3 separate regions of the Homo sapiens genome follow, and regions 2 and 3 are each linked to region 1. The links come from fine-mapping of genetic effects on gene expression. A gene starts in region 1. Each other region holds a variant in brackets. All regions are shown on one strand. Distances are from middle to middle.

The links. PIP is the estimated chance that this variant, and not a neighbour inherited with it, causes the effect. A credible set is the group of variants that fine-mapping cannot tell apart.
Region 2: its variant is the best candidate, but not a certain one, in a credible set for the expression of ZNF770 in monocytes (BLUEPRINT, PIP 0.82).
Region 3: its variant is the best candidate, but not a certain one, in a credible set for the expression of ZNF770 in whole blood (INTERVAL, PIP 0.88).

What each region holds. Positions count from the first base shown.
Region 1 is chr15:34,983,078-34,993,285 of GRCh38, forward strand. ZNF770 (zinc finger protein 770) reads right to left here and starts at 5,210. Exons shown (of 3, transcript NM_014106.4): 1 at 5,039-5,210; 2 at 4,480-4,596; 3 at 1-413. The coding sequence starts at 357. LOC105370764 (a long non-coding RNA gene) reads left to right here and starts at 5,281. Exons shown (of 5, transcript NR_188212.1): 1 at 5,281-5,407; 2 at 6,608-6,733. RefSeq lists enhancers at 2,073-2,725, 3,709-3,768, 3,849-3,898, 5,305-5,394, 10,141-10,208.
Region 2 is chr15:35,044,136-35,054,343 of GRCh38, forward strand. No RefSeq gene overlaps it. Among named protein-coding and RNA genes, the nearest start is that of NANOGP8, 36 kb to the right of the region's middle. RefSeq lists a silencer at 8,932-9,164. The variant CTT/C (reference allele first, on the strand shown) is at 5,492.
Region 3 is chr15:35,016,269-35,026,476 of GRCh38, forward strand. LOC105370763 (a long non-coding RNA gene) reads right to left here and starts at 522. Exons shown (of 3, transcript XR_932098.3): 1 at 1-522. RefSeq lists an enhancer at 3,862-4,554. The variant T/G (reference allele first, on the strand shown) is at 4,462.

The sequences.
Region 1 (10,208 bases):
CTCCAGCAATCTTCTGACCTGTTTAACATTATTCTGATAGGTTTCATTGTGAAGTTGTTGGTGCTTCACAAATGTCTTCAGATTTTTAAAGTGACGCTGACAAATACTACATTTAAAAGGCAGACTATGAGTTAGTTGATGCCTCTCCAGATGAACTAGTTGTCTAAAGGTTTTATGACACACATCACATTCAAATGGCTTTTGACCAGTATGAATGAGATAGTGCCTAGCTAATTTTGATGGTGTTTCAAAGTGCTTAAAACAAATATTGCAAACATATGGCCTGTTTCTAGGTAGTTTGTTGGCTACCACACACTGTTGAATCTTTAGCATTTTTAAATTGTTTTCAGCCATCATATTCTTCAATGATATACTCTGATGAGCTCCATACTGTTCTTAAATTCCACAGATGTCTAAAAATTAAAGGAAAAAAAGTATTAATTTTAAAATTATTTATTCATATGAAAAGTAACTTAAGTTGTTCTTTGGCTGAAGATATTAAAGGCAAAGGAGAATCTGGACTTAGTGTTTACAAGTTAATAATCATTTTAAGTAATACTTTAGAATAATAATACTAATTTTATACATACAGAGATATGAGTCTTTAAAAGAAATATCTAAAAATCAATACAATTTTAAGCTATTTTTCTAATTGAGATGCTACATTAAATGAGGACTAGGCTGAATTTCTTAACATGAAATAGATATTTTAATTCCAATTTTCCTATTTCATTATTAGGTAGATTTGCCAGTATTTAGTTGCCATCATTTTAAAAAATGGGCTAGAAAGGTAACAAATCAAAACATAATACTAAAAATAAGATATACTTGCATTCAATTATAGCACATTGTAAATATGCTCTTAGAATAGAACATTTCACTTATCATAGGTGGATTTCTTAGCCACAAATTTAACATGAGTTATTCTCAATTACTTCTTTAGACCAACAAGGACAGTGTGGACTAGGAGAAAATTCACAGAAGACCTGGGTTCTAGTCCTGGATTTGCCACTATACGATCTTGGTGGTAGGAAGAAGGAAATACAGAGTTCTCATCTGTAAAATGGGGAAAAGGTCTCCTGGATTGTCTACCACCACAAGCTGTTGTCAAAAATCAATGGAGATAATGTATATGAATGTGCTAAAAAACAGTGAAGCAATACATAAATCTAAGGAACTATTTAGCTCAACACTAATCAAATTTTAAAATGTTATCCTTATCGTCTTAGTAACATTTTTAAGCGTTTCTCAATAAGAGATAAACCCACTGACTAAATTTACAGGTTTTAAAAATTTCTCACCTGGCGCCGTGGCTCACGCCTGTAATCCCGCACTTTGGGAGGCTGAGGCTGGTGGATCACCTGAGGTCAGGAATTTTGAGACCAGCCTGGCCAACATGGTGAAACCCCGCCTCTAGTAATAATACAAAAATTAGCCGGGTGTGGTAGTGCACACCTGTAATCCCAGCTACTCAGGAGGCTGAGGCAGGAGAATCACTTGAACCCAGGAGGCAAAGGTTACAGTGAGCCGAGATCGTGCCATTGCAATCCAGCCTGGGTGAGAATCCATCTCAAAAAAAAAAAAAAAATTCTCCTTTTCACTTTGTTGTGAAATTCCCAAAAGACAAGCATAGAGGTAATAAGATCGACAAATTGGTTACTTATATAGCTATCTATGACTAAGTAATTGAAACTTGAGTGTGCTTTGCCCATCAGGCAATATAGTAAAAGGGTCATTTTGGTCTTAAGCGTTAATATAAAGATTTAAAAAACTGGCCCAGTGCAGTGGCTCACACCTGTAATCCCAGCACTTTGGGAGGCCAAGGCAGGGAGATCACATGAGGCCAGGAGTTTAAGACCTGCCTGAACAACGTGGCAAAACCCCGTCTCGACTAAAAATACAAAAATTAGCCAGGCGTGGTAGTGCACATATGTTAATTCCAGCTACTTGGGAGGCTGCAGCACGATAATTGCTTGAACTGGGGAGGCGGAGGTTGCACTGAGCCAAGATTGCACCACTGCACTCCAGCTTGGGCAACAGAGCGAGAGACTGTCTCAAAAAAAAAAAAAAAAAAAAGTTTAGCAAGCACTTTCATAACTATCTTATACTCTATCTTCTATCAGAGAAGCCAATTTTCTTTTCATTATTACTTTACTATGGCACTGCCCTTAAATAAAGGAGTCAGAGATTTTTTCAAAAAAAAATTAAAAGCTGTGCTAGCTCTTTCAATATAATGTATCTTCTAGATCAGAGAGTTCTAAGTCTGGAGTTCTTTTGTCAGCTGATCTGGCAAACATCCAACAAACACGGTGTTACTATTTTCTCCTAGAAGATACCTTCAACCCCAAATCACAAACATACCCACTGTGGTTCTTTAGCAATGTGAATCAGAAACAGAAAAAAAAAATTACTGAACAAATATCTTTAGTTACTTTATCACAGTGTTTTTCAAACTGCAGGATATTACTCATTAATGGATTGTGAATTCAACTTAGCAGATCATGATCAGCACTTTGTTATTTAAAATAAGAGCGGAGGCTGGCATAGTGGCTCATGCCTGTAATCCCAGCACTTTGTGAGGCCGAGGCAGGGGATCACCTGAGGTCAGGAGTTCGAGGCTAGCCTGGCCAACATGGTGAAACCCTGTCTCTACTAAAAATACAAAAATTAGCTGAGTGTGGTGGTACATGCCTGTAATTTCAGCTACTTGGGAGGCTGAGTCAGGAGAATTGCTTGAACCCAGGAGACGGAGGTTGCAGTGAGCCGCCAAGATTGCACCACCACACTCCAGCCTGGGAGACAGAGCAAGACTCTCAAAAAAAATTTAAAAATAAATACATAAATAAAAATAGGGGATAAATAATAGTAGAAAGTATCAGACTGCATACTATATAGCAAGGATAAATATTGTTTTGTGAAACTTCTGTAGGAAGAAGTAAAAAAGTTTATGAAAGCTGTTCTTAACATGCCTCTTCATACTAGACAAAGGAACCTACAACAAATCGACCACTTTATTCAAAGTGGCCAAGTGATCTATTAAGGTGAGAAAGATAGGGGCCCATAGTATGAGACAAGATTACTAAAGAAAGCAAGTGTCTGGTTTTCTTCACTTGACCCATATTATTCCAAAATATTTATTTTAAATAAAAATCATCTAATTACAGGCCAAATGGAAAATGCCACATAAATCCACGCAAAATAAAACAATCTGACTGTAAGCCAGTATAGTAGTAAAATATATCATATAACCCAGATATCAATGTTAACCAACAATCAACTCTTGGTGCTATGAATATGCATTTTCAGTAGCTTGAATTAGAGAAATTAGAGGTGAACAAGCTCCAAAGTCTCTAAACATGCCGATACAGAGCAACAGTCATGATAATTAAAATTAAGTCATGAATCCAGTGAACTGCAAAGAACTTGGCAGCAATTAGGTGCCAAGGTAGTCAATCAGGACAATGAGTCAAACCAAAAGTAATCAAGCCTTTATTCACTTACTGTGACAGTGCAAGCAAGTGGTAAAAAGAGGCACTGGCTCCCCAGTGGTCTACTAAATACAAGGACACTGGGTGAGGGTCAGTTGATGCAGTGCATATGAGGTAATCCTCTCACTGAAAGGAGCCCCTAACAAAAATCTCCTGCCTCTTATGGAACTTCAGAATAGGAAAGGGAGGGGAAGGTCTAGGAGTGAAAGAAGCTGGGTCAAAAATGGAGAAAAGTGTCTTAGCCACGGTCCTTCCTAGGAGGGCCTCCAAATGGAGGTACCCAGGCTAGGAAAGAAGTTATGGGATTTGCATATCTAGCAGGAGGGGCAGGGCAAGTCCTTGACTGCAACCCCCTCCAGAAAACTGCAATGCACCGGCCCATATCGAGTATGGTGTGGGAGGACAGCTTGGCCCTTGAGGCCAGTCAGGCAAAGCCTGGTAATTGTCCAATGTCAGGACTGAATGATCACACAGGATTTTGGTATAAAGCCAGATTCAATTCCTTTTGTATGTTTCTTCTTCCCTTTAATAAATGCTTTCGTGGAACACGCCTAAAAGAAAAAAATCACACACCACAACTACCTCTGATTAAAACAGGGATTGGCTACCTACAGCTCCTGTACCAAAAAGGAGCTACGGTTAATCATCCATTGTTAGCACTAAGATTGGATAACTGTTGTCACTTGCCTCCCACCACGTGGAAAAGCACTTACTGGGAGCCCTAGATTGTTAGAACCATTAGTGGCAAGTGGTGATCCTATCTCCTGTTTATGAGAGTCAGGTTAGGGATCCTCACCTCACGCACTCATGGAGCTCCAAATCCCATTTCAACCGATTTTTGTTGATAACATAAAAATAAAAAAGACTGTAATTTTTCTTATCTTAAACTGAAATAAAAGAATAGTAGATCTGCTCAGTGGTTCAATCCAGAATTTATCCTGACAAGAACAAGATACTCTACGTGAAGACTGTAAAAACTGTAAAAACTGACCTCAATAATATCCAATGTTGCCTCAAGGCTGAAAGCCTGTTGATTTTCTTGTCTTGACTAGTACCATTAAAACGATGTGAGGATTTCACGAAAGTAAGCGAACAAGAAATGAAAGACCTAAGAGAAACACACACAACTTTCAGTTGGGGAATAATCTCCGGCGGCTGCTTCTGCCCCACTCGCCCCGGGCCCATTCTCTTGGCCTTGAACCCTCACCTCTCCCTCCCAGTGGACTACACTGGACAAAGGACACTGACACACAGTCCTCGTTCTAAAGGCCCACAACCAATAATAAGCACGTAATGGTCGAGCCGAGTCCAGAAACCACAAAATCCCACGCCAGGAAAGGAAGGGTAAGGGTAAAAACTGCTTTGGCTGCAGCCAGGATGAAAACGCCACATGTGATACAACCCACAGCAACAACAAAAAAAAATCCCTCTACGCCTTCCTCTCAAATTTCTGCTCCGCGTGAGACGCACTCAATAGGTGGGGAAGTGAGAAAGCAAAAGGAGCTCAGGAACTGAGGTTGTGGAGCCCCCGTTCTTGGGTCCCCAGGCACCTTGGCGGTATTGAGGCAGGTCCGACCCTCCCTGGGGGTCGCTCCACTTCTCAGTCGGGTTTCTGAAGTCCTCCTCACGCATCTGGAGCTGGCGAGGGCCCGGGAGGCACGCACCTCAGGCCCAGGTGCCGCGAAGGCAGCGCGCGCACGTCCGCAGGGCCGGCGCGGCAACGGGCTGAGCGCGCAGGCGCGGCGCTCTGGCGCGCCCAGGGACACAGTCCGGCTGGAAACAAGCTCCCCCCAATTTCAGGGCCGTTGTCGCCTCCGGGCGGTCCGCGGGTCCCGAGCGGACTGGGACTCTGGAGACGTGCCCCCAACCCCACCGCCATTCACCCTGTCATTGCAGGGGAGAGAACAGAATAAAGACGGGTACATTTTCCATCTCACCTCTGAACCTCGGTTAGGAAAACGCTGTAGCCCTGACTAGTGGGCTCAAGGGCCGACTGGAAAAGGGCGAGTCAGCGTTCAAAGCCGATTCGGGGCAGCCCTCTCTAACGCAGAGGGCCGAGGATAAGAAGACGACAATGTGTTAGGGGCCCTCCGGGCTAGGACTGTCCTCACCACTTTGTACATTGCCAAAGTAAATATAACGTAGAGGTCAAGCGCAGGCGCTTTGTGGGCAGACATGACTGAGCTCCACTCGCGACTCCTCTAATGGCGTGCCAGCTGCGGACCTCATTAGCCCCGCCTCAATCATTCAGTATGTTTTGGTTGTCTACAGTGTACGAAGCCCTGTTCTCACAATTAGATAAAATGAGTGTGAAGTGCTCAACATAATTCCTAGTGTAGTAGGCCTTCAAAGAACTATTATCATTATTAATTACTCATATAGAATACAACTTTATGAAATGATAGGATCCCATTTTAAGATGAGGAAAATGAGGCTATCAGAGACGTTAAGGAACTTAATGTCACACAGTTAATAAACGATAGAGGTGCGATTTGAACACAGGTTGTCTAATACCAGACCTGCATTTATAACTGCTGCTTCCCAAGTTATAGATATTTCAGCATTTTATGTAGTCACAATTGAAGACCAAATATTTAGTTACAGACTAAGTTGGCATGTTATTACTGAATAAGATGCTAAGGTATCTACTAAAGATTTTAAGTGCAAAAGGCATTAGAGAAGAATTTACTGTGGATTTTTTGCAGGTTCTGATTGTAATTGTATCACCTTGAGAAAGGAGGAAATGAAAGCAGATTATCAGGCATACTTTTTTAACTCTAAGCAACTTTTTGCATTACTTTCTAAGGACCATCAGCAACAAAAATCAATGGTTTCTAATGTTGATATATTTTCCTCTACCAAAAAAATTAAAGCAGCTGAGCCAACAAAAATTCTCTGTTTTGGATGTGTTAGCATGAGGAAATGGCGAATAGGAAATGAGCTTTTGCTTCTCATGTAGGAACCCTGAAGGAGTCAGATTTGGGAGGGGTTGAAGTCTGCTTCCAACAGAAGCAGGGGTGGAGAAGGGAAAGGAAAGACTTCTGGTGTCCTAAATGCTAGTCCCAAAGTGGGGATGCTGTTTGTCCGGATAACCCTTGTAAATCTGCTCCATTCTGCAGCTACTCCTGGGAAACTTAACTCAGCCAAATAATGCAAACAATTGCATCCATCATCAGCCACATCAGCCTTAGGAGATACATCCATATCATGAGAAAACACTACCTGAAATTGGGGACCACTGGAGGGTGAGATTCGTTCTTTATCCATTACCTGCAAAACAAATTGGCCTTTGCATGGAGAGTCTGAATATATATTGAGTGTGAAAGCAGTTAGGACTTGAATAGGCTATTCTCCAAGGCCACATGCCCCATGTCATAACCTCCCCCATTTACCGTGAGAGCTATCTCAGGAGCCTTCTGGAAAAAAAAGAGAAATTAACATGAATAAGAGTAATCAAGGAAGATTTCATTGAATATGTGAAATTTGAACTAGCAGTAGTGGGTAGACTATGAATAAATAAAAAATGTGGGGGCAGGACAGAACATGGTAGGGCAGAGGTGGCAGGGTGAAGAAAAGATAGTATGAGAATGAAAAATAAAGGGGGTGCATGACATACGTTTGAATTAGTATCTTAATGCTGCAGCTTACTAGTTGTGTCCTTAGAAGTTATTTAACCTAGGCTGGGCGCGGTGGCTCACACCTGTAATCCCAGCACTTAGGGAGGCCGAGGCGGGTAGATCATGGGTCAGGAGTTCGAGACCAGCCTGGCCAACATTGTGAAACCCTGTCTCTACTAAAAATACAAAAATTAGCCGGGCGTGGTGGCACGTGCCTGTAGTCCCAGCTACTCAGGAGGCTGAGGTGGGAGGATTGCTCTAGCCCAGGAGTTAAAGGCTGTAGTGAGCCGTGTTCATGCCACTGCACTCCAGCCTGGATGACAGAGCAAGACTCTGTCTTAAATAAATAATAATAAAAATAGAAAAGATGTGCCACTGCACTCTAGCCTGGGCGACAGAGCGAGACTCTGTTTCAAAAAAAGAAAAAGAAGAAAAGACATATCAGGTACCAAGCTCTAAATATTCACTTCCAATTATATAAAGATGAAGCAGTTAGGCCCTGAACCTTAAATTAGTTTCTAGCCCAGAGGGGAAAATAACATACAAACAAGTATTAATACAATATGATAAGAGCAGATATATATAGGAGGAAAGAACATCTAAATCTGCTTGGAGGTTCCAGGTACAGATGGTCCCTGAGCTGCAGCTTCAATCAGCCATCTATCCATCCATCCGTTCTGCATATATTAAGCACTCGCTGTGTATCAAGTCCTGTTCTAGGCAAGGGGGACAGAGTAGCAGACAAAAAGTCAAAAATCCATGTCTTCATAGATTTTATATTCTACTGAAGGAGACAGACAACAGATCAAATAAGTTAAAATATATAATATGTTAAATATTAGTAAGAACTGAGGAGAAAAGCACAGAAGAGGGCTGTGAAGATTTGAGGGTGTGGGTGGGGATGCTGGCATTTTAGTAGATGGCCAGAGATGGCCTTAATGAGAAGTTCTGTGATTTTTTTTTTTTTTAATACAGAGTCTTGCTCTGTCACTCAGGCTGCAGTGCATTGGCACGATCTCAGCTCACTGCAACCTCTGCCTCCCAGGTTCAAGTGATGCTCCTGCCTCAGCCTCCCAAGTAGCTGGGACTGTAGGTGCCTGCCACCATGCCCGGCTAATTTTCGCATTTTTAGTATTTCGCATTTTTAGCACCATGTTGGCCAGGCTGGTCTTGAACTCCTGATCTCAGGTGATTCATCTGCCTCGGCCTCCCAAAGTGCTGGGATTACAGGCATGAGCCACTGCACTCAGCCTAGTTCTGTGATTGTTGAGTTGAAACCTGGTGGAAATGAGAGACTGCCTTTCCCATGGGAGACAGTAGGAGGCAGGGATAAAAATGAGTAGTAACTTGCTTAGTGGGCAAGAGAGTGTGTTTTTGGAGGAGGGTGGGGAAAGGAAAGATAGGCAGAGAATATTCCAACCACAACAGACACACAGTGAGAAAAGGCATGGCAAACAGGAAATACAAGTAGTTGCTGGAGTGTGAAGTACAGGTTGGGAAAGTGGGGAGTGGCAGGAGAGTCACTCACGCAGGAAATAATTTGGAGCACCTACTGCTCACCAGGTTCTTAACAAGAAGCTCAGAAAGTTGTTATATGCAAATGTTTTCTTTTTAAAAATTTTCTTCTTCTTTTTCTATCTTTTATCCAAATAATTGTACTTGATTCTCTAGTTTCTCTTCAGATCCTATAAATCTTTCATCTTTTACCAAAATAATTGTACTTCAAAGGAGTCCATAATTTTAGGATATTTTGTATGTTTTTTGGAATATTTTAAAAACAGAGTTTTTTTTTAACTTTTTTTTGAGATGGAGTTCTGCTCTTGTTGCCCAACCTGGAGTGCAATGGCACGATCTCGGCTTACTACACCCTCCGGCTCCTAGGTTCAAGCGATTCTCCTGCCTCAGCCTCCCGAGTAACTGGGATTATAGGCACGCGCCTCCACGCCTGGCTAATTTTTTTTTTTTTTTTTTTTTTTTTTTTTTTTTTTTTTTGTAGAAACGGAGTTTCACCATGTTAGCCAGGCTGGTCTCAAACTCCTGACCTCAGGTGATCCGCCCACCTTGGCCTCCCAAAGTGCTGGGATTACAGGCATGAGCCACCATACCCGGCTAAAAAACAGACACTTTTTGAAATTGACTTTTAATGGTGTTAAAGCTGCCTTCTGCCCTAAGTGACAGGCTGGCAAGGAGCTCACATCTCCTGGTTCCATCCCGTCTCTCTTATCTTTCCTTTCTCCTCTTCCCATTCCCTCTGTGGAACAACATACAAAGTCATCTGCTTGCCTTCTGCAGATAGTCCACCCAAATCTGTACCCCTCAGGTGTTAGTTTCTACCCCCAAGCAACTGTCAAAGAATTTTTTCAACAAAGAAATCCTTCTTTCTTTCTTTTTTTTTTTGGGGGGAGGGGAGATGGAGTTTTGCTCTTGTTGCCCAGGCTGGAATGCAATGGCGTGATCTTGACTCACCGCAACCTCCGCCTCCCGGGTTCAAGTGATTCTCCTCCCTCAGCCTCCCGATTAGCTGGGATTACAGGCATGCGCCACCGTGCCCAGCTAATTTTGTATTTTTAATAGAGACGGGGTTTCACCATGTTGGTCAGGCTGGTCTCGAATTCCGGACCTGAGGTTATCTGCCCACCTTGGCCTCCCAAAGTAGAAATCCTTATTTCTTAAGATGATTTTTGGTGAATAGAACCCTCTCCTTCCCATCATATACTGTACTTCCTTGAGAATAATACTTGCAACTTCTTGTACATTGTGCTACACAACTTCTGAGAGCATTGTGGTGTAGGAGTGGGGCAGCTGGGAGCAGGGAGAGGGTGGAGGATAAGTTGAGATCAGAAGATGAAGCACAATACGGCTGTACTGTATTTTACTTAGGACAGTTGGACTGTCTACAGCTCACAGGCTAGCCCCAGTCTCCTAAAGGATTGCTGGAAATCTCTAAAGCTCCATTAGTGATAATACCTATTGGATTTCTGGGTCTGGTTAGGTATTGCACTGTTCCACACCCCGACTCCTGCCCCACTTCCTCACTTCCCATGTGTTGGTTCAAATTCGGTAGTATTGAGGTTCCAGAGTTACCTGGAAGCAGGCAGAAATC
Region 2 (10,208 bases), 61 kb after region 1:
GCAGTGGCATGATCTCGGCTCACTGCAACCTCCACCTCCTGGGTTCAAGCAATTCTCCTGCCTCAGCCTCCAGAGTAGCTGGGACTACAGGTGCGCGCCCCCATGCCCAGCTAATTTTTGTACCTAGTAGAGATGGGGTTTCACCATGTTGGCCAGGATGGTCTTGAACTCCTCACCTTGTGATCCGCCCACCCTGGCCTCCCAAAGTGCTGAGATTAGAGGCGTGAGCCATGGCGCCTGGCCCACATTTTATAATTTTTAGAGAGTTTTTACAGCATTATCTATTTAGTCCTCATTAAAACACCAGACACTTGCCATGGACTGTGGCGGGCCTTGTGGTTCAGATGAAAACATTGCATAGTTCCTTCCTCGGGAGACTGGAGTAGAGACTATGCGGAAATGTAATAATTCCAGACAGAACAATGTATTATTGAGAGATAGGACTAGCTGGATTTCCCAGGCTGACTAAGAATCCCTAAGCCTAGCTGGGAAGGTGACCACATAAACACGGGGCTTGCAACTTAGCTCACACTACCAATTTACTACCAATCAGGTAGTAAAGAGAGTTCATTAAAATGCTAATTATGCAAAAACAGAAGATAAAGAAATAGCCAATCATCTATGGGCTGAGAGCACAGGGGGAGGGACAATGATCGGGATATAAACCCAGGCATTGGAGCCAGCAACGGCTACCCTCTTTGGGTCCCCTCCCTTTGTATGGGAGTTCTGTTTTCACTCTATTAAATCTTGCAACTGCACACTCTTCTGGTCCATGATTGTTACGGCTGGAGCTGAGCTTTGGCCTCCGGATCCAGCAGGGTGTCCACTGTGCTCCTGATCCAGCGATGCGCCCATTGCCGCTCTGATTGCGCTAAAGTCTTGCCATTGTTCCTGCATGGCTAAGTGCCTGGGTTCGTCCTAACTGAGCTGAACACTAGTCGCTGGGTTCCACGGTTCTCTTTTTGTAGGGCCAGGCGTGGTGGCTCACGCCTGTAATCCCAGCACTTTCGGAGGCTGAGGTGGGTGGATCACGTGAGGTCAGGAGCTCAAGACCAGCCGGGCCAACATGGTGAAACTCTGTCTCTACTAAAAATACAAAAAATTAGCCGGTTGTGGTGGTGGACGCCTGTAATCCCAGCACTTTGGGAGGCAGAGGCGGGCAAATCACAAGGTCAGGAGTTCAAGATTAGCCTGGCCAACATGGTGAAACCCCGTCTCTACTAAAAAAATACAAAAATTAACCAGGCATGGTGGTGTGTGCCTGTAATCCCAGGTACTGGGGAGGCTGAGGCAGGAGAATCGCTTGAACCCAGGAGGCGGAGGTTGCAGTGAGCTGAGCTCGTGCCACTGCACTCCAGCCTGGGTGACAGAGCGAGACTCCATCTCAAAAAAAAAAAAAAAAAAAAAAAACCCACAAATTTTTGTAGATTATTAAGCACTACACAAACATCATTACTTCGGTTACCTTAGGTTTTCTTCATTAACAACCCCTGACCTTGAGCATGTGTGGAACTTCTGACTTTGGGAAAAAGAAGGAGCTTATAAATATTATTAATTTAATACGTCTTGGCTGTGCGCGGTGGCTCACGCCTGTAATCCCAACACTTTGGGAGGCCGAGGCAGGCAGATCACTTGAGGTGAGGAGTTCAAGACCAGCCTGGCCAACATGGTGAAACCCTATCTCTACTAAAAATACAAAAATTAGCCAGACTTGGTGGCGCGCACCTGTAGTCCCAGCTACTCAGGAGGCTGAGGCAGGAGAATCACTTGAACCCGGGAGGTGGAGGTTGCAGTGAGCCGAGATGGCACCATTGCACTCCACCCTGGGAGACAGAGCAAGACTCCATCTAAAAAAAAATTAACATATCACAATATATAAATAACATATTATATATTATCTATAAGTAGTATATTAAATAATAACACTATATTAAAATAAGTACCTTATGTATACAATGAACACTGTGCTTTGTGCTTTATATATCTATCACTTTTAATCCTTTGAAAAAGGCTGTGAGATCATATTATTCCCAGTTACCCCTAGATTCCATTTTCTTAATTTGAGAGTCCTGTTTTCTTTTGGTATAGACTGATGAAAACAGATGAGCCAGTATGAATTACCTGGGCTCTGGCTTTCTAGAATGGGCCTGCTGTTTTGCATATCAACATAAATTCTGTGTGAAGATTTTTAGCTGGCTAACCATTTGAGATAGAGTGAGGGGCTTCAAAATTATGTGGTCAAGGCTGGAAACTGTTTTTTTTTTTTTTTTTTTTTTTTTTTTTTGAGACAGGGTCTTGCTCTGTCACCCAGGCTGGAGTGCAGTGGCGCGATCTCGGCTCACTGCAACCTCTGCCTCCTGGGCTCAAGCCATCCATTTCTATCTCATCCTCCTGGGTAGCTAGGACTACAGATGCGTGCCCCCATGCCCAGCGAATTTTTTGGTATTTTTTTGTATAGGTTGGGTTTCGCCATGTTGCCCAGGCTGGTCTTGAACTTCTAAACTCAAATGATCTGCCCGCCTTACCTCCCAAAGTGCTGGGATTACAGACATGAGCCACTGCACATGGCCAATTTTTATTTCTTTATGATCAAGTTTAAAATGTTTTCCAATTACTCATCTGTTACTTCCTATTGAGTTAAATGTATTTTTTTAAATGCAGAAGTAACGTTCACTTCTTACCAACTCAGCCTCACCTATTGATTCATTAAATCCCATAGATTATCCATAATGCGTTTGATACAATTAAATCATGATTTTATTTCCACTTATGAAGAGAGGTTCTCTCAAAGCATTCAAAGCCTATGTCCAAGGCACAATTTGCTTATAGAAAGAATCCGAAGGGGCTGGGCGCCATGGCTCACACCTGTAATCCCAGCACTTTGGGAGGCTGAGGCAGGGGGATCACCTGAGTTCGGGAGTTTGAGACCAGCCTGACCAACATGGAGAAACTCCATTTCTACTAAAAATACAAAATTAGCCGGGTGTGGTGACGCATGCCTGTAATCCCAGTTGTTCGGGAGGCTGAGGCAAGAGAATCACTTGAACCCGGGAGGTAGAGGTTGTGGTGAGCCGAGATCATGCCATTGCACTCCAGCCTGGGCAACAAGAACAAAACTCCATCTCAAAAAAAAAAAAAAAAAAAAAAAAAAAAAAAAAGAATAAGAATAAGAAAAAGAAAGAATCTGAAGGAAGATCTTTTACTCCATGATAGTGGCTAAGTATGAATTACATTACCCAAAGAAGAAAAATTTATTTCCATTAGTCAAATAAAAGTGCTGAGAGAATTCAAATAAACCAATTTTCCATACATTTAAGGGCTCCTGCACATATATTTAATACCTTTCAATGATCAGTTTTAGCCACATGAAGTAGTAAAAACATACAGTATTTCTTCCTAAGTGTTGTTAAAACAACTTCTTAGACAAATGGATTATAAACCTGGGTCAGAGCTTTATTTCTAGCTAGGCACAAGGGATGAAACCTTTAAATGTGCCAATTTAAGATTCCCTTTAGGAATCGTATAGGAAAAGTGAATGGTTAATCATTGTTAAACTGGATACAAGAAAAAATAATGTCTGGTTAAAGATTATTAGGCTAGCCAGTCAGCTGGGTGGGTAACCCTGGCTTCCCAGAAGTCCTTAATCTCATTCAGGTCTATCAGAAAAGTGCTCAAGCATTTTAACAGCAATGCCAATTACTTCCCAGAGGAGGTTGTGAATTATATCACATAAAAAAGTTCTGCCTCCAGACAATGTTTAGGACAATCTTTGTTCTCAATGTGAATAAAACTTTTGTGCCAAAAAGCTATCATTGAATTTTTGGTTCTAAAATAATACTTTTTCTCTAATATTTGATTTAAGGTGGCTAGCCCTTTTGGAATAAACCTATGAAATGTTTCTTACCTTAAAAGAATGTTGCAAGATTTGAGACATTGATATTTAGACAAATGTAACACTTCTGAGAAATTGTAAGATGACATAATGGAAATAGTAATAAAGTAAGTGGCAAATGTGATTTTAAAACAAGCCAGCAGTGTCTGGATTTGTCTACTGATTTATAGGAAATACATGATAAATTACATCACAGATGGGCAGTGAGGAGTATCTAGACTATGGGAAATTCTACAGGACCCAAAACCTGGTTTCCTCAACAAACAAATTGCAAGGAAGGGGTGGGGGAACCTATATAAAATACATAAAAGACTTACCAATCAATTACATGTGGACTTCATTTGTATCCCTAGTGAAACAAACACATTATAAAATAAAATTATGCCATTCTTGAAGCAGTTGAGAATTTGAAGTCTCTTACTGAATATTTAATATTAATGAATTATTGTTGATTTAATGGTATTGAGTTTATATGTTAAAAAATCCACCTTATTCTTTTTTTTTTTTTTTTGAGACGGAGTCTCGCTCTGCTGCCCAGGCTGGAGTGCAGTGGTGTGATCTGGGCTCACTGGAAGCTCTGCCTCCCGGGTTCATGCCATTCTCCTGCCTCAGCCTCCCGAGCAGCTGGGACTACAGGTGCCTGCCACCACGCCCGGCTAATTTTTTGTATTTTTAGTAGAGATGGGGTTTCACCATGTTAGTCAGGATGGTCTCAATCTCCTGACCTGGTGATCCACCCGCCTCGGCCTCCCGAAGTGCTGGGATTACAGGCTTGAGCCACCATGCCCAGCCGACCTTATTCTTTAGAGATAACACAGTGAAAATCTGCAGATGAAATGATATGAAGTCTAGAATTTGCTTCAAAATAATGCAAGAGAAAGAGAAGAGGGTGTGGATACAGACTAAATACAACTAGCTGTATTGATAACGGTTGAAGTTGAGTGATGGGTGTTAGGAAGTTTTTTGTACAAGTCTGCCTATTTTTTGCATATGTTAGAAACTCTCTTTAATAGAGAGTTTAAGTAAAATGATGTTGGCAAGATTGGTCCTTTGAGCTGTTGGTGCTTTTGTTACTGTCCTGGCCAAACTCCTATTCTAGAGCCTACCACCAGTGGAGCCCTGTAAACAAAAAACACCAATTACAGCACATGTGCAGAAGTCAGACCACAATATGACTTAAGGGAAACCTTTCCTTTAGAGCATAACATTATGGGCAAAAAAAATCCTGGCTAGACACAAAGAAATGGCTATTACTTTGAAGCACTGTAGTGAAGGGGTAGTACTCATCTCTCTTTGGAAAATATAAAACTTGGTAGGGTTTATTTGTTGTGGATAGAGAGGAGGGAAACAATGAGAAAGAATATGGTCCCAAGTCTGGCAAGGGGCAGAACTGTTCTTCCATAGTTTAAAAGGTACTGGGCCTCTTCTGGGAAGTAATTAGCATTCCTAATCAAAGGCTTGATAGATGTCACTGTGAAGAGGACCTCTTCTGGAAAGTTGGTTGGACATAGTCTTCATCCATCCTCTATTTATTCATCTTCCTTGTCTTCTTTCTTGTAACACCTCCTCTTTCTTTCTCTTTTGCATTCTATTTTTCCT[CTT/C]GTCTTCTTTTTTCCTTTTCTTCTTCTTCATAGATGTTTCTCTCAAGAGAGAATTACTTGTGTATAACTTGCTCAGAGGGCTCTGTCCTGGCAGCAAACTTGAAATGAGACTCTTGACATTTCTTGTAATCAGTTTGTCTGAGAACTTGCTTTCTTCAGTTTTTTTCATCACATAGATTATTCATTGGAACATAATAAATAATAAAAATCTTGGAGTTTCTAGTTTAGTAGCTCAAGGAAGGTGGTTAGAAGCCTGGAAGAGGTGGCAGAGAAAAAAGAATGTGGAGAGACAGGAGGCCAGCAATAAGACCAGAGGTTGGGGTCTGGGCGCAGTGGCTCACGCCTGTAATCCCAGCACTTTGGGAGCCCGAGGTGGGCGGATCATCTGAGGTCAGGAGTTTGAGACCAGTCTGGCCAACATGGTGGAACCCTGTCTTTACTAAAAATACAAAAATTAGTAGGGCTTTGCAGGGTCCTGAGGCAGGAGCATCACTTGAACCCAGGAGGCGGAGGTTGTAGTGAGCTGAGATTGTGCCACTGCACTCCAGCCTGGGCAACAGAGCAAGACCCTGTCTCAAAAAAAGAAAGAAAGAAAGAAAAAAGACCAGAGGTTAGGACTCTGCAGGGACACAGCCCAGAGAAACTGCTGTGCCTGACATTCAACTTGACCTGTGTTGAATGTTCTTTCCTGATCTGTGTTGTTATTACTCCTTTTCTCTCCCATCTTAGTAGATGACAACACCATCCCTAGGCTGAAACCTAGTCTAAAAACCTAAGTTTCATCCTCGCTTCCTCTCATTCTTTCACATCTGCAAGTCCTGTTGGCAGACCTTCAATATGTATCATAACCCAACCACTCCTCCCAGTGCCATCGCCTAAACACTGGTTCCAGCAGCCAGCTCTAGCCTGGGTTACTGTAATGGCTACCAAAGTCATCTTTCAGCTTCCACCTTTGCCTGTTTCATTCTCTTCTCAATGTAGGAGCCAGATGATCCTTCTAAAATGTAACTTAGATTGTATCACCCCTCTACTCCAGAGCCTGCAATAGTCATGTAAAAGCTAATGGTCACACTGGCCTACTGGCCCATGCAATCCACTTCCCACCTACCCCTGGCCTGTTACCCCTATGATCACATCTTGGCTCTGCCCTCGCTCGTTCCCACTGTGGCCACACTGGCTTCCTGATGTTGTCCCTAGGGACTGCACCTGCTGCTCCCTCTACCTGGGTCGTCCTTCCCCCAGACCTAGGTATGGCTGTCTCCAGTGCTGCCTTCATGACTTTATCTAACTTTTTTTTTTTTTTTGAGACAGATTCTCGCTCTGTCGCCCAGGTTGGAGTGCAGTGGTACGATCTCCGCTCACTGCAAGCTCCGCCCCCCAGGTTCATGCCATTCTCCTGCCTCAGCCTCCCGAGTAGCTGGGACTACAGGCGCCCGCCACCACGCCCGGCTAATTTTTTTTGTATTTTTAATAGAGACGGGGTTTCACCGTGTTGGCCAGGATGGTCTTGCTCTCCTGACCTCGTGATCCGCCCGCCTCGGCCTCCCAAAGTGCTGGGATTACAGGCGTGAGCCACTGTGCCCAGCCTACTTTATCTAATGTTAAGTCTCCTCAGTGAAGCCTTTTTGACTCCTCTGTTTAAACAATTAAACTCCTATGTAGATAGTAAAACCCAAAAGAAAAAAGAAAAAAAAACGAAAATAATCACACTCTCCTCCCAGCACTCTGCATCCCGTCTACTTTGTTTTTCTCTATGTACATATTACTACCAGACACAGTATATAGCATGTCATTTGTTGTATTTATTGGCCGAGAGTTTCCCCTGGAATGTAAGCTCAATGAAGGCAGAGAGTTTTGTCTCTTTTGTTTGCTGCTGAATCCCGAAGGCCTAAACAGGGCCTAGTCTATACTAGCTGCTCAATAAATATTTGTTCAATGACTGAATGAATGCCCCAAATTAGTAAAACCTTGGGTGAGTAGTGCTTTGGGTGAATGAAGCAAAGCTGAGTGCAGGGGCGATGTACTCACTTCAAGCAAAGAGATGGTAAGCTAATGATACCAAGAGTTTAGTGGAAATGGACAGTTTGAGTGAGGGTATGGAAGTTGAGCCTCTGGGAAGCCTCAGGGAAATTTTTGGACCTTTCTTCCATAGCCTGAGTCATTTTATTTGAGTTTTTTTTTTTTTTTTTTCCTGAGACAAGAGTTTGCCCAGGCTGGAGTGTAGTGGCGTGATCTCCACTCACTGCAACCTCCACCTCCTGCCTCAGCCTCAGCCTCCTGAGTAGCTGGGACTACAGGCATGTGATACCACACCTAGCTAATTCTTGTATTTTTAGTAGAGACAGGGTTTCATCATGTTGGCCAGGCTGGTCTCGAACTCCTGACCTCAGGTGATCCACCCATCTTGGCCTCCCAAAGTGCTGGGATTATAGGCATGAGCCACTGGGCCCAGCCATTTTATTTGAGTATTAAAACAAGGGCAGTCATAGAAGATTGGAAATACTTGGGAATATTTGGTTACTTTAAAAGAATTTAAAGTGGCTGGGCATGGTGGCTCACGTCTGCAATCCCAGCACTTTGGGAGGCCAAGGCAGGCGGATCACAAGGTCAGGAGTTCAAGACCAGCCTGCGCAACATGGAGAAACCCTGCTTCTACTAAAAATACAAAAATTAGCTGGGTGTGGTGGCACATGCCTGTAATCCCAGCTACTCAGGAGGTTGAGGCAGGAGAATCTCTTGAACCCGGGAAGCGGAGATTGCAGTGAGCCGAGATCGTGCCACCGCACTCCAGCCTGGGCGACAGAGCGAGACTCCGTCTCAAAAAAAAAAAGAAATTTAAAGTTACATTTTGAGAAAAGACATATTTTCTAATTCTGGACATTTATACATCTGGTGTTTTTTTCTTTCTCAGAAAAAGGTTTAAATGTTTGAAATTAGACATCTGGCAACCCTCGTAGCCAGCTTAAACAGGGCAGAGACAATCAATACTCTATTCCAGATCTGCCCAACAGAAAATACAAACTCCAGTGTTGAAGCTTTGAGAGTGAGGGTGGGAGTAGCAAGTGTGGGTGCTTGCCCTGTACATTGGCGACTTCTTTGGGGGCTCTGAGAGCGGATGGAGCAGGTGAGGAGATGCTGGTGAGGAAGGTAGAGGAGACTGGTGGGAGGATCAGGTCATCCCTGGAATAAGGCTCATTTCTAGGTTGGCCCAGTTGGCCTGCAGTGACCAGACTATAGCAGGACTCATAGAAGGAAGTGGCTATGTTAGCTGGCACTAAGTAAAAGACAAAAACCTGGCCGGGCGCGGTGGCTCACGCCTGTAATCCCAGCACTTTGGGAGGCCGAGGCGGGCGGATCACGAGGTCAGGAGATCGAGACCATCCCGGCTAAAACGGTGAAACCCCGTCTCTACTAAAAATACAAAAAATTAGCCGGGCGTAGTGGCAGGCGCCTGTAGTCCCAGCTACTCGGGAGGCTGAGGCAGGAGAATGGCGTGAACCCGGGAGGCGGAGCTTGCAGTGAGCCGAGATCCCGCCACTGCACTCCAGCCTGGGCGACAGAGCGAGATTCCGGCTCAAAAAAAAAAAAAAAAAAAAAAAAAGACAAAAACCTAATTAGGAAGGAAAAGCAGCTCTAATGCGTAAGTAGAAATAATGCACGTCCGTGCCCTGCCTCCAGCCGCTTTTGCGAATCTCCCCATGGTCAAGGTGAGATCAGCAGGCCCGTCTCTCTCCCCTTCCAGTAATCTTTCAGTCCACAGATTGCACATTTGAGGCTGTTCTCACTCTCACTCCCCAAATTACCTTCTAAGGTTTTTCTTGATGTTCATTTTTGTCTTGTGTAAAAATATTGAGGCCCACATTTTCTAGGCATAGTTGTGTTGCTGACTAAACCTAAAAGTGGGTGCATAAGACCAAAAAATTGATTGATACTCTATGCTAATGTTGGAGAAGGAGTGGCACAACATGGTAGGCAGAGTTCGGGCCTCCAGGGGTCTTGCCCAGCTTCCACGATGCCCTGAAGGTATCCAGGAGGAACACTGACCATGCTGAGGGTGTTGATGGGAAAGCTTGCCCGAGGGCTAACTGAGATCTGTGCCCATGTGTGTCTGTGGTGTCAGTGTATGTGTCTAGGGGAGGCAGGATGAGCAAAGAAGAAAAATCGTACTTTAGCTGATGGCAGTGCTGGTCTGCAGCCCAAATGAGATTTGTAGGAAGACCTCCTCAGAGACTCCAGCAAGAACCTGAACAAGAGGGAAGTGAGGCTGCTAAGTAGCCGGGAGGCACCACCCAGCTCTGGCCAAGTCTAAAGAAATCAGAGGACAAGGCACAAACAACAGAAGCAGCAGACCTTAGCAGGGCAGCAGTACCCGGGTGGACAAATGACAAGAACGTGCAGATCAGGGGGCTAGAGGACATCATGCTTGAGGTCTCTGACCCCATCCATCATGAAATTGCAAAGTTTCTGGACAAACAACCCAATTCTACATGCATTCATGTAGTCTAATGCCATCTTAGAGAGGAGCCGGTAGAAGACCAATAAATCACCAAACACTTTTATCTAGAGAAATGGAGCATTAAACAAAGGGATCCTAAATGGTAACATTAGACAAAGGTTTAAACCAGATTGGACCTTTAGTTATTTTTCTCCTTGCTACTTACTTAGTGGTTAGGTGCCCACAAGGATATTTGTCCTATTTGTGTAAAAATACCAAT
Region 3 (10,208 bases), 33 kb after region 1:
AAGGACGGTCATAGGGTAGTTCTTATTCTGTAAGTATATCTTTTCACCTATGTGATCAAGCACAGCTACAAATACCAACAATTTCTACTGAAAATCAAAGACCAATCAGCCTGCGTGTGTGTGTGTGAGAGAGAGACAGACAGACAGAGAGAGAGAGAGAGAGAGAGAGAGAGAGAGAGAGACAGAGGGAGAGAGAGAGACTGGAAATCAAGTAAAGAAAGGGAAGCACTAAAATGTAAATGCTGGGGCTGATGTCTTGATGAATATGCCAAGCACTGGAGAAACTTTATTTTGTTTTATGAATCAAACCAGGAAGGGATATTATCAGTATAAGGTGTTTCAGTTGGGGAAGTTGGTGCAATGAGAAGAGGCAGAAATGAAGATGGGAGTTACAGGGGTTCCTCACTCCCACTTACCCCAACTTTGGGACCACATACATACTCCACTCATATTCTCCCACATTGTTGGTAATGCTTGCTTTTATTATTTATTTATTTATTTGAGACAGAGTTTCACTCTTGTTGCCCAGGCTGGAGTGCAGTGGTGCAGTCTCAGCTCACTGCAACCTCTGCCTCCCAGGTTCAAGCGATTTTCCTGCCTCAGCCTCCCAGGTAGCTGAGATTACAGGTACATGCCACTATGCCTGCCTTATTTTTGTAGTGTTTTTTTTTTTTTTTTTTAGTAGAGATGGGGTTTCACCATGTTGGTCAGGCTAGTCTCAAATGCCTGACCTCAGGTGACCCACCTGCCTCTGCCTCCCAAAGTGTTGGGATTACAGGCATGAGCCACTGCACCCAGCCAATGCTTACTTTTAAAATAAAGGCCAGGGCCAGGTGCGGTGGCTCATGACTGTAATCCCAGCACTTTGGGAGGCTGAGGTGGGCGGATCACCTGAGATCAGGAGTTTGAGACCAGACTGGCCAACATGGTGAAACCCCATCTCTACTAAAAATACAAAAATTAGCTGCGGATGGTGGTGCAGCCTGTAATCCCAGCTATGTGGGAGGCTGAGACAGGAGAATTGCTTGAACCCAGGAGGCGGAGGTTGCAGTGAATCGAGATCATGCCACTGCACTCCTGCCTGGGTGACAGAGCGAGACTCCATCTCAAAAAAATGAATAAATAAATAAATAAATAAATAAAATAAAGGCCAGGAAATAAAATGTATTGAAGTGGCAAATATGCTCTAAGCATTGATTAATAGTGTTACAACAAATTAATATTTGTGGTCTATGAAAAAGGGAATTAGACTGTAGTATAGAATTTGTATTCCAGTTCCAGCCCTGCAGCAAGCCCTTTAACCTCTTTAAGTCAGTTTTCCCAAAGATAAAGTGTAAACAAGAAACTTAGCTCTTAATATTTATGGCAGAAAAAATGAAAAAAAAAAAACCTCAAAAGTCCAACAACAGGGAAATAAATTATAGAATATTTATATGCTAGAGTATTGTTAACAATAAAAATTTAGTTTTGAAAATTGTTAGCAATATACTAAAGATTCACAATATAATATTGTGAAAAAACATGATTTAGAAACAGTCTATTGAATTATGCAAATTTTACTAAATATTCTTTCAAGCATATAAAATACTTGAAAGAAATAAATCAAAATGTTAATTTTATTATTTCATGGTGGTGATTAGAGATGGTTTAACTTTTCTTCTTTACATAGTATATTTGTTATTTTCTGAATTGTGTTTAATGAACATATACCAATTTTACCATCAGAAAAGATGTTGTTTTTAATAAAACAATGTGCTTTAGCTTAGTTTATAAGGATATTTAGAGGAAAATGGAAACAAGTTTGAATACTCTCGATTCTGACAAAAATGTGCTAAGCAATCCCAGTACTTATGTTAAAGGGAATTTTTTTTTTTAATTTTTAATTTTTTTTTTTTTTGAGATGGAGTCTCACTCTGTCGCCCAGGCTAGAGTGCAGGGGCATGATCTCGGCTCACTGCAACCTCTGCCTCCCAGGTTCAAGTGATTCTCCTGCCTCAGGCTCCCAAGTAGCTGGGATTACAGGCATGCACCACCATGCCCAGCTAATTTTTGTATTTTTAGTAGAGACGGGGTTTCACCACGTTGTCCAGGCTGGTCATGAACTCCTGAGCTCAGGCAATCCACCCGCCTCAGCCTACCAAAATGCTGGGATTACAGGCGTGAGCCACTGCACCCAGCGTTTAAAGGGAATTCTGATGTTTGTTTCCATAGACAGTTTTTTTCTTAGTAAGGAATGGATGTAGGCACGGTGCGGTAGCTCACGCCTGTAATCCCAGCTCTTTGGAAAGCAGAGGTGGGCGGATCCCGAGGTCAGGAGATGGAGACCATCCTGGTTAACACGGTGAAACCCCGTCTCTACTAAAAGTACAAAAAAATTAGCCGGGCGTGGTGGTCGGCGCCTGTAGTCCCAGCTACTCGGGAGGCTGAGGCAGGAGAATGGAATGAACCTGGGAGGCGGAGCTTGCAGTGAGCCGAGATCGCGCCACTGCACTCCAGCCTGGGCGACAGAGCGAGACTCCGTCTCAAAATAAAAAATAAAAAAATAAATAAATAAAAGAATGGATGTGCTTGGAAGTGATCCCCCCAATCATTAGGGGAACACAGTGTATGTGCCACCACTACCTTAGAACTATTTCTGTGTGCTGAGCCTGGTGTTCAAGAAAAAGTCAAATTGACCCTCATCAGCCTACAGCAACTTTATCCATTCACTAGGAGGGATGACCAGCTCCTTGGGAAGATTTTTGTGCCTGAGGTGGGGCCTCAGACAGGGGTGGGAAATGTTTAAACAGACTCCTTTTCCCATGGCTTCAATTTCAGTCCCTCTTCTCAGCAGGGAGTGACCACTGTCTCTGTCATTCCCCACAGAAGCTGCTTATAAGATGAAAAAAGGTTAAAATACAAGTTCTTGGGAAATAAAAGCAGAGGGCAAGTAGGGCTGCAGGGGGAGCTAGTACCAGAATTGAGCTTGGCATCCTGGGAAGGTGAGGTCAGGTAAGATAGGGACTACTACTATTATAGACTACTGGGTCAAGTACTAGCTATTAATGATCTCATTTAACCCTTTAATAATATGAAGTTAGCCGTGTTATATCTTCCTCCCCGCCCCCGCCCCGCCCCCCCCCCCCCCCCCCGCTCCTCCTCCAACTGGAGTAACTGAAGCTCAGGTAAAACAAAACAAAATGAAACAAAAAACCATTTGCCAGGTTATTTCTTCCTCCCCTTCCTCCTCCTCCCCCTCCCTCCTCCTCCTCCCCCTCCCTCCTCCTCCTCCTTCTTCTCCTCCTCCTCCTTCTCCTCCTCCTTCTTCTCCTGCTCCTCCTCCTGCTCCTCCTCCTGCTCCTCCTCCTCCTCCTCCAACTGGAGTAACTGAAGCTCAGGCAAAACAAAACAAAATGAAACAAAAAACCACTTGCCAAGATCACACAGGTAAATGCTGGAGCCAGAGTTTGAATTGAGGTTTTAGTGGCTCTGAAATGTGTACTTTTTACAACAGAGTCTGGTGAGCCCCAGAGTTGTTTAATACCAGATTCACCCAGAAAGAAATTTGAAAATACAAATTCCAAAATTCCATCCCTAGAAATTCTGATTTTAATTATGTCAGGAATGGGACCAAGGAATCTGTAAGGCGTTAAGGAGGTTCGAGGACTGCAGCTCTCTTCCACATTGCTGCTCCCACATCAGCAATTAGTCAAGATGTGCTCTTGTGCATGGGCCTGAAGACTCAGCCCAGTGAGTGAGCTATGTGTGAACTTCACACTCTTGGCCCCTGCCAGTTCCTCAGCCTCATATCTCCCTCCCACCAAGTCAGAATTTGGGAAAGCCAGCCAGTCAGGAAGAGTGCTAAAACAAAAAATATAAATACAATGAGATAGAAATAATGAAGCTTCGACAAGGTGAGGTGGCTCACACCTGTAATCCCAACACTTTGGGAAGCCGAAGTGGGCAGATCACGAGGTCAGGGGTTCAAGACCAGCCTGGCCAACATAGTGAAACCCCATCTCTACTAAAAATACAAAAAAATTAGCCAGGGGTGGTAGCGGGTGCCTGTAATCTCAGCTACTTGGGAGGTTAAGGCAAGGAGAATCACTTGAACCTGGGAGGCAGAGGTTGCAGTGAGCCGAGATTGCGCCACTGCACTCCAGCCCGGGTGACAGTGTGAGACTCCGTCTCAGAAAAAAAAAAAAAGAAGAAGAAGCTTCTTAGGGTGGTGACTGGGAGGAGGGGACAAGCACCCCATGGAGTTGCTTCAGTCACAATCAATGGTCATTTAACTGCGTCTAAGGAGGTCAGGTCTTAGGTGCAGGCCTTTTGTTTGGCTGATTTGCTTTGCAGATTTGGGTCCAAGGCATGCAAATGTCCCTGTTTAGGATCACAAAGGAGTCACTGGGGAGCCACCAGCATTCTCTCCACTACATTTCACATCTTCTCCAGACTTAATAAACCTTTCCTTTAAATAAATAT[T/G]TTTAAGATATGTCAAAAAGAGCCGGGCGCGGTGGCTCACACCTGTAATCCCAGCACTTTGGGAGGCTGAGGCGGGTGGATCACAAGGTCAGGAGATCGAGACCATCCTGGCTAATACGGTGAAACCCCGTCTCTACTAAAAAAATACAAAAAATTAGCCAGGCGTGGTGGCGGGTGCCTGTAGTCCCAGCTACTCGGGAGGCTGAGGCAGGAGAATGGCTTGAACCTGGGAGGCGGGAGGCAGAGCTTGCAGTGAGCGGAGATCGTGCCTCTGCTCTCCAGCCTGGGTGTTAGAGCGAGACTCCATCTCAAAAAAAAAAAAAAAAGATATGTCAAAAAGATTAGTTTGAAGAGGCACAAAATTACTGACCTGTCTCATGCATCCCTGCATTTTAGTTCTGCTCTGTCTCATCCCATCCCCGCATTACCTCTGTTCTCCTCCAGGCCTTTGCACACCATTCCCACCACCTGGAACACTCTTCTGCCTGCTCGCTCTCTCTACACCTATCTATCTCATTCTTATTCATCTTTTAGGTCTAGGCTTAAACATTGCTTTCTCTGGGAGCCTTCCTCAACATAGAGGTTAGAGACTCTTAGTGTATGTTCTGACACCTATCACCACACTCATCAGATTTCATCGTCATTACATATTTAATTATCTGTTTCCCCCTAAACTGTGAGCTCTCTGAAGACAGGACTTTTGTTGTTTTGTCCATCACTGTTTCTTCATAGCTAGTCCAACGTTCATGAAATCTGTACTGAGTGATTGAATGAGCCGAGAGTCTGAGGCTATGTACATAGTGAGCCCCTTACTTAGAAGGATTAAAAGTTGGGACTGGAACTGTGATCAGTTCATAGGAACTCCAGTGTATAGATTCTCTAACTTTACCAAAGCTCAACCTTATCCAGATTATGGTGCCAAGAATCCTGGGATGCAAATCAGAAATATAAGATCCAGCGAAGTTGTGTAACCTTTTGCCAGTTGTTTAACCTCTTCAACCACTCCCAGCTTTTCTGAGTAGCAAACTGTAGGAAAGTACAGTGCTTTGAAACAATACAAATATGAGTCTCCTTTTGTGGAGACATAGAAGAGATGTGTCATCTTTAAAGGGACCACTTTCTGGTTTCCATTTTTCCCACCTCAAGCCATACCTCTGGGAGGGTAAGCACAGTCAGTACAGTGGAGGCTCTCATCAACGCCACTCACCACTGCCATTATCTGGCTGATTAATACAGTTTGTGTTATTGCAAAGGAAAGGGGAGGAGGAGAGAGAACAACGTGGCAGCATTTGTGGTATAAGAATGTGGTAGATCTGTCAAAAACACTTTCCAGATTCCTCATTCTCTAGGGGACAATTTTTCTGCTGGTATTTTGAGATCTCAAAATTAAATACCTGTGCCAGAACTGCCATCTCTAAGGTGACAATACTAGAAATCTCCCTCGGCTTCTTAACATGAGAGGTTTTAAATATTAGCTGCCTTAATGAAGTACCATATGGATAACATTTTAGGACAGGCAGTCAAATTGTGACAAAAAAAAAAAAACAAAAAATGATTAACTGCAAAAGCAAGAAAAAGAATTTGAAGTAGGGTTGCCAGATTTAGCAAGTAAAAATATTTGAGAAATAATTGCACTAAAAAAGTATTAATTGTTGGCCAGGCACGGTGGCTCACGCCTGTAATCTCAGCACTTTGGGAGGCCAAGGCAGGCGGATCACCTGAGGCCAGGAGTTCAACACCAGCCTGGCCAACATGGTGAAACCCCATCTCTACTAAAAATACAAAATTAGCCGGATGTGGTGGCAGGCCCCTGTAATCCCAGCTACTTGGGAGGCTGAGGCAGGAGAATCGCTTGAACCGTGTGTGGCTGGTATTTCTTTAATGTTATCAAATACCTAATGAGGGTTCAAGTTTCTGATTGTCTAAAAAAATTTTAAAAGTTTTTGCTTTTTAAAAAAATCACAAACCAAATAAAGTCCCTTTGTTTGTAATTTGTTCATAAGTTTCTCCTTCCTTCCTCTCTCTCTCTTTTCCCTTGCAAGCTATATGTTGAAGAAATTCGGTTGTCCAGTTGAGTCTCTTACATTCTGGATTTTTCTGATTGTATCCTCTGCGTATTTGTATCTCTTATAAACTGTTAGCTGGATTTAGAGATTTAGTCTGATTCAGTTTAAAATTTTTTGCAAGAATACCTTCAGGTGGTGGTGTGTACTTCCATCAGGAGGCATATAATATCTAGTGGTCTCTCTTTTTGTGATATTAGCAGCCACTGATGATCATTGCCTAGAGTATGTAATTAGAAATTTGCAAAGTGGTCTTATTCTTTTTTTTTTTTTTTGACACGGAGTCTCTCTCTGTCGCCCAGGCTGGAATGCAGTGGCATGATCTCGGCTCACTGCAACCTCTGCCTCCTGGGTTCAAATGATTCTCCTGCCTCAGCCTCCTGAGTAGCTGGGACTACAGGTGCATGTCACCACTGCTAGCCAATTTTTTATAGTTTTAGTAGAGACGGGGTTTCACTGTGTTAGCCAGTATGGTCTTGATCTCCTGACCTCATGATCCACCCACCTCGGCCTCCAAAAGTGCTGGGATTACAGGTGTGAGCCAGCCACCGCACCCGGCCAGTGGTGTTATTCTTATATCGTTGTTTCTCTATTTATTCTTTTTCCTTCGTGTGTGTGTGTGTGTGTGTTTAGTAGAGACAGGGTTTTGCTATGTTGCCAGGCTGGTCTTGAACTCCTGGCCTCAACTGAGCCGCCCGCCTTGGCCTCCAAAGTGCTGGGATTACAGGCATGAGCCACCGTGCCCTGCCATTATTGATTCTTTTTTCATTACAAATTTATTTTTTAATTATTATTTTCCTTTTTGGTATTGCTCCTTGTGGAGCAGGGATAACCCATAGGCAGTGTGCCCAGAGTAGTCTCTATTTATTCTTGAGAGAACCTTCCCTCATCAACTATTTTGTTACCCTGAGGTGTATTTCATGTGGGAAAGTATCATAGCTCAGTTTCTAGGAGAACAGACTCTGAGATGAAAATTGCATGTCACAGGTTTAAAGCAGGAAGCCCTAGGGAACAACACCTGTAAGAAAGTGAGGAAAGTGCTGGACAGAGTGAGAAAGAAGTTGAACTGTGATGGAATTTTAAAGAACCCAGACAATCCTACAGTGAGCTTTAAAGCCGGCATAGCTCCTCAAAGTTAAGGCTGTGCCTTTATACCCTCCACCCCGCCCATGCATTGACTAATCACTGTGGGCTGACCTTGGGTTGAGGATGTAATCTTGAGTAAGACAGCTCCCCTTACCCAATAACAATTCCTGGGAGTGGCTCAGCTGAGGAACTTTAGCAGTGGAGGCTCCTGGGGACTGAACGAGCATCTCAGTTGTGAAGGGGCCTATCTGAGTGGTGCACTTAAGTATCAAATACAAAAGGACAAGTTAAATGGTTGATTCCTTCTCTTTATTTACCAGATTCAAGAATCATGGGCTAGGCACGGTGGCTCATGCCTGTAATCCCAGCACTTTGGGAGGCCGAGGCGGGCGGATCACCTGAGGTTGGGAGTTTGAGACCAGCCTGACTAAAGTGGAAAAACCCCATCTCTACTAAAAATGCAAAATTAGCCAAGCGCAGTGGTGCATGCCTGTAATCCCAGCTACTCAGGAGGCTGAGACAGGAGAAGTGCTTGAACCCAGGAGGCAGGGGTTTCGGTGAGCTGAGATCACGCCATTGCACTCCAGCATGGGCAACAAGAGCGAAACTCCATCTCAAAAAAAAAAAAAAAAAAAAAAACAAAAAGAATCATGAGTTGAGTTGATGAGTTGTTTCTGAAGGGGATCAGAACATGCTAGCTCAAAATATGCCACTTTGGTGTGAGGATGATTCTGAGCTGAAGGCAATTGAGAAACAGCACATACAGGAAAAGCTCTCTACCCTTCTCTTTTCTGTCTAAAAGCAGGGAATAAATTTTCTCTTTGTGAAGGTTTCCCCCAACCCCTCTCCCACACCAGAAAGAGATGACTCTTATCGCTAGAGATGGCACTAGCTTGAATCTGCATAATCAAACCTCACTAAAATAGCTGTTATCTTCCACTTACTTTCCTGCATATATTTATCACCCCTAGAAACCCGAGCTCTTTTTCTTTGTCTTGTCACTTCTCCACAAATTTGTTGTTCATTGTTAAAATGGCATATAAGCTCTCAGGCCTCACTGCTTCTTTGGGTTTTTACTTCCTTTTCCATGAGACTCTCATATGCATGTAAAACATTAATATATTAACATCAAATAACATCTTTTTTTTTTTTTTTTTTTGAGTCGGAGTCTTGCTCTGTTGCCCAGGCTGGAGTGCAGTGGCATGATCTCGGCTCACTGCAACCTCTGCCTTCCAGGTTCACGTGATTCTCCTGCCTCAGCCTCCCGAGTAGCTGGGATTACAGGTGCGTGCCACCACGCCCAGCTGATTTTTTGTATTTTTAATAGAGATGGGGTTTCGCTATGTTTGCCAGACTGGTCTTGAACTCCTGACCTCGTGATCCACCCACCTCGGCCTGCCTAAGTGCTGGGATTACAGGTGTGAGCCACCATGCCAGGCCTAGATTTTTAAAAAATATTTTTTGTTGCCTGAATTGCCTTTCTACTTTAGAAAGCTAGAGTGATATCTTGAAAGTTGTGGGATTTTTTTATTGGGACAAAAACCAGATGCTAGTCTTACATATCTTGCTTTTATGAAGTGGGAAAAGAGATCCAACCTGCCTTATTTTTCTGAAAAAATTTTTTTAATTAATGGCCTTGATTAGTGTCTGAAAGCTCCATTTTGATGTCCAAATTAGGTCTTCTCCAGAGCTTGCTAGGAAAGTTCTTTCCTTACCTTTTGGTGATTTGGGCTATAGATTTTTCTGTTTTCTCCATTAGTCTCCATTAGTCTTATCCTTTTTTCTCTAATATTTCTTTCAACTTTCTGGTCAGTTACTAGTTCATTTTTCTTGTTTTTTAGCACAATGTATATTAATAAATAGGAATTTTAGTGACATTGGGATAAAAATGGTGGTGGTGGTGGTACTGTGCTTAGTCTGTCATTTCAAAATGGATGCTTCCTAATGTCTTTTTTTTTGAGACGAGGTCTCACTCTGTCGCCCAGGCTGGAGTGCGGTGGCGTGCTCTCGGCTCACTGCAACCTCTGCCTCCCAGGTTCAAGCAGATTGCCTCAGCCTCCCAAGTAGCTGGGATTACAGGCGCGAGCCACCACGGCTGGTGGTTTCACCATGTTGGCCAGGCTGGTCTTACACTCCTGACCTCAGGTGATCTATCTGCCTTGGCCTCTCAAAGTCCTGGGATTACAGACATGAGCCATCACGCCCAGCCCTTAATGTCAAAAATAAAGATCTAATTTCTTCTAAAAAAAAATTTTTTTTTTCAGAGATTGGGTCTTGCTCTGTTGACCAGGCTGGTCTTGAACTCCTGCTCTCAAGCAATCCTCTCATCACAGCCTCCCAAAGTGCTAGGATTACAGGAATGAGCCACTACACCTGGCCAAAATCTAATTTCTTATATAAGACATCAGGGTGACCGGGCAAGGTGGCTCACACCTGTAATCCCAGAACTTTGGGAGGCTGAGGTGGGCGCATCACAAGGTCAGGAGTTCGAGACCAGTCTGACCAAAGTGGTGAAACCCTGTCTCGACTAAAAACACAAAAATTATCCGGGTGTGGTGGTGTGTGCCTGTAATCCCAGCTACTCAGGAGGCTGAGGCA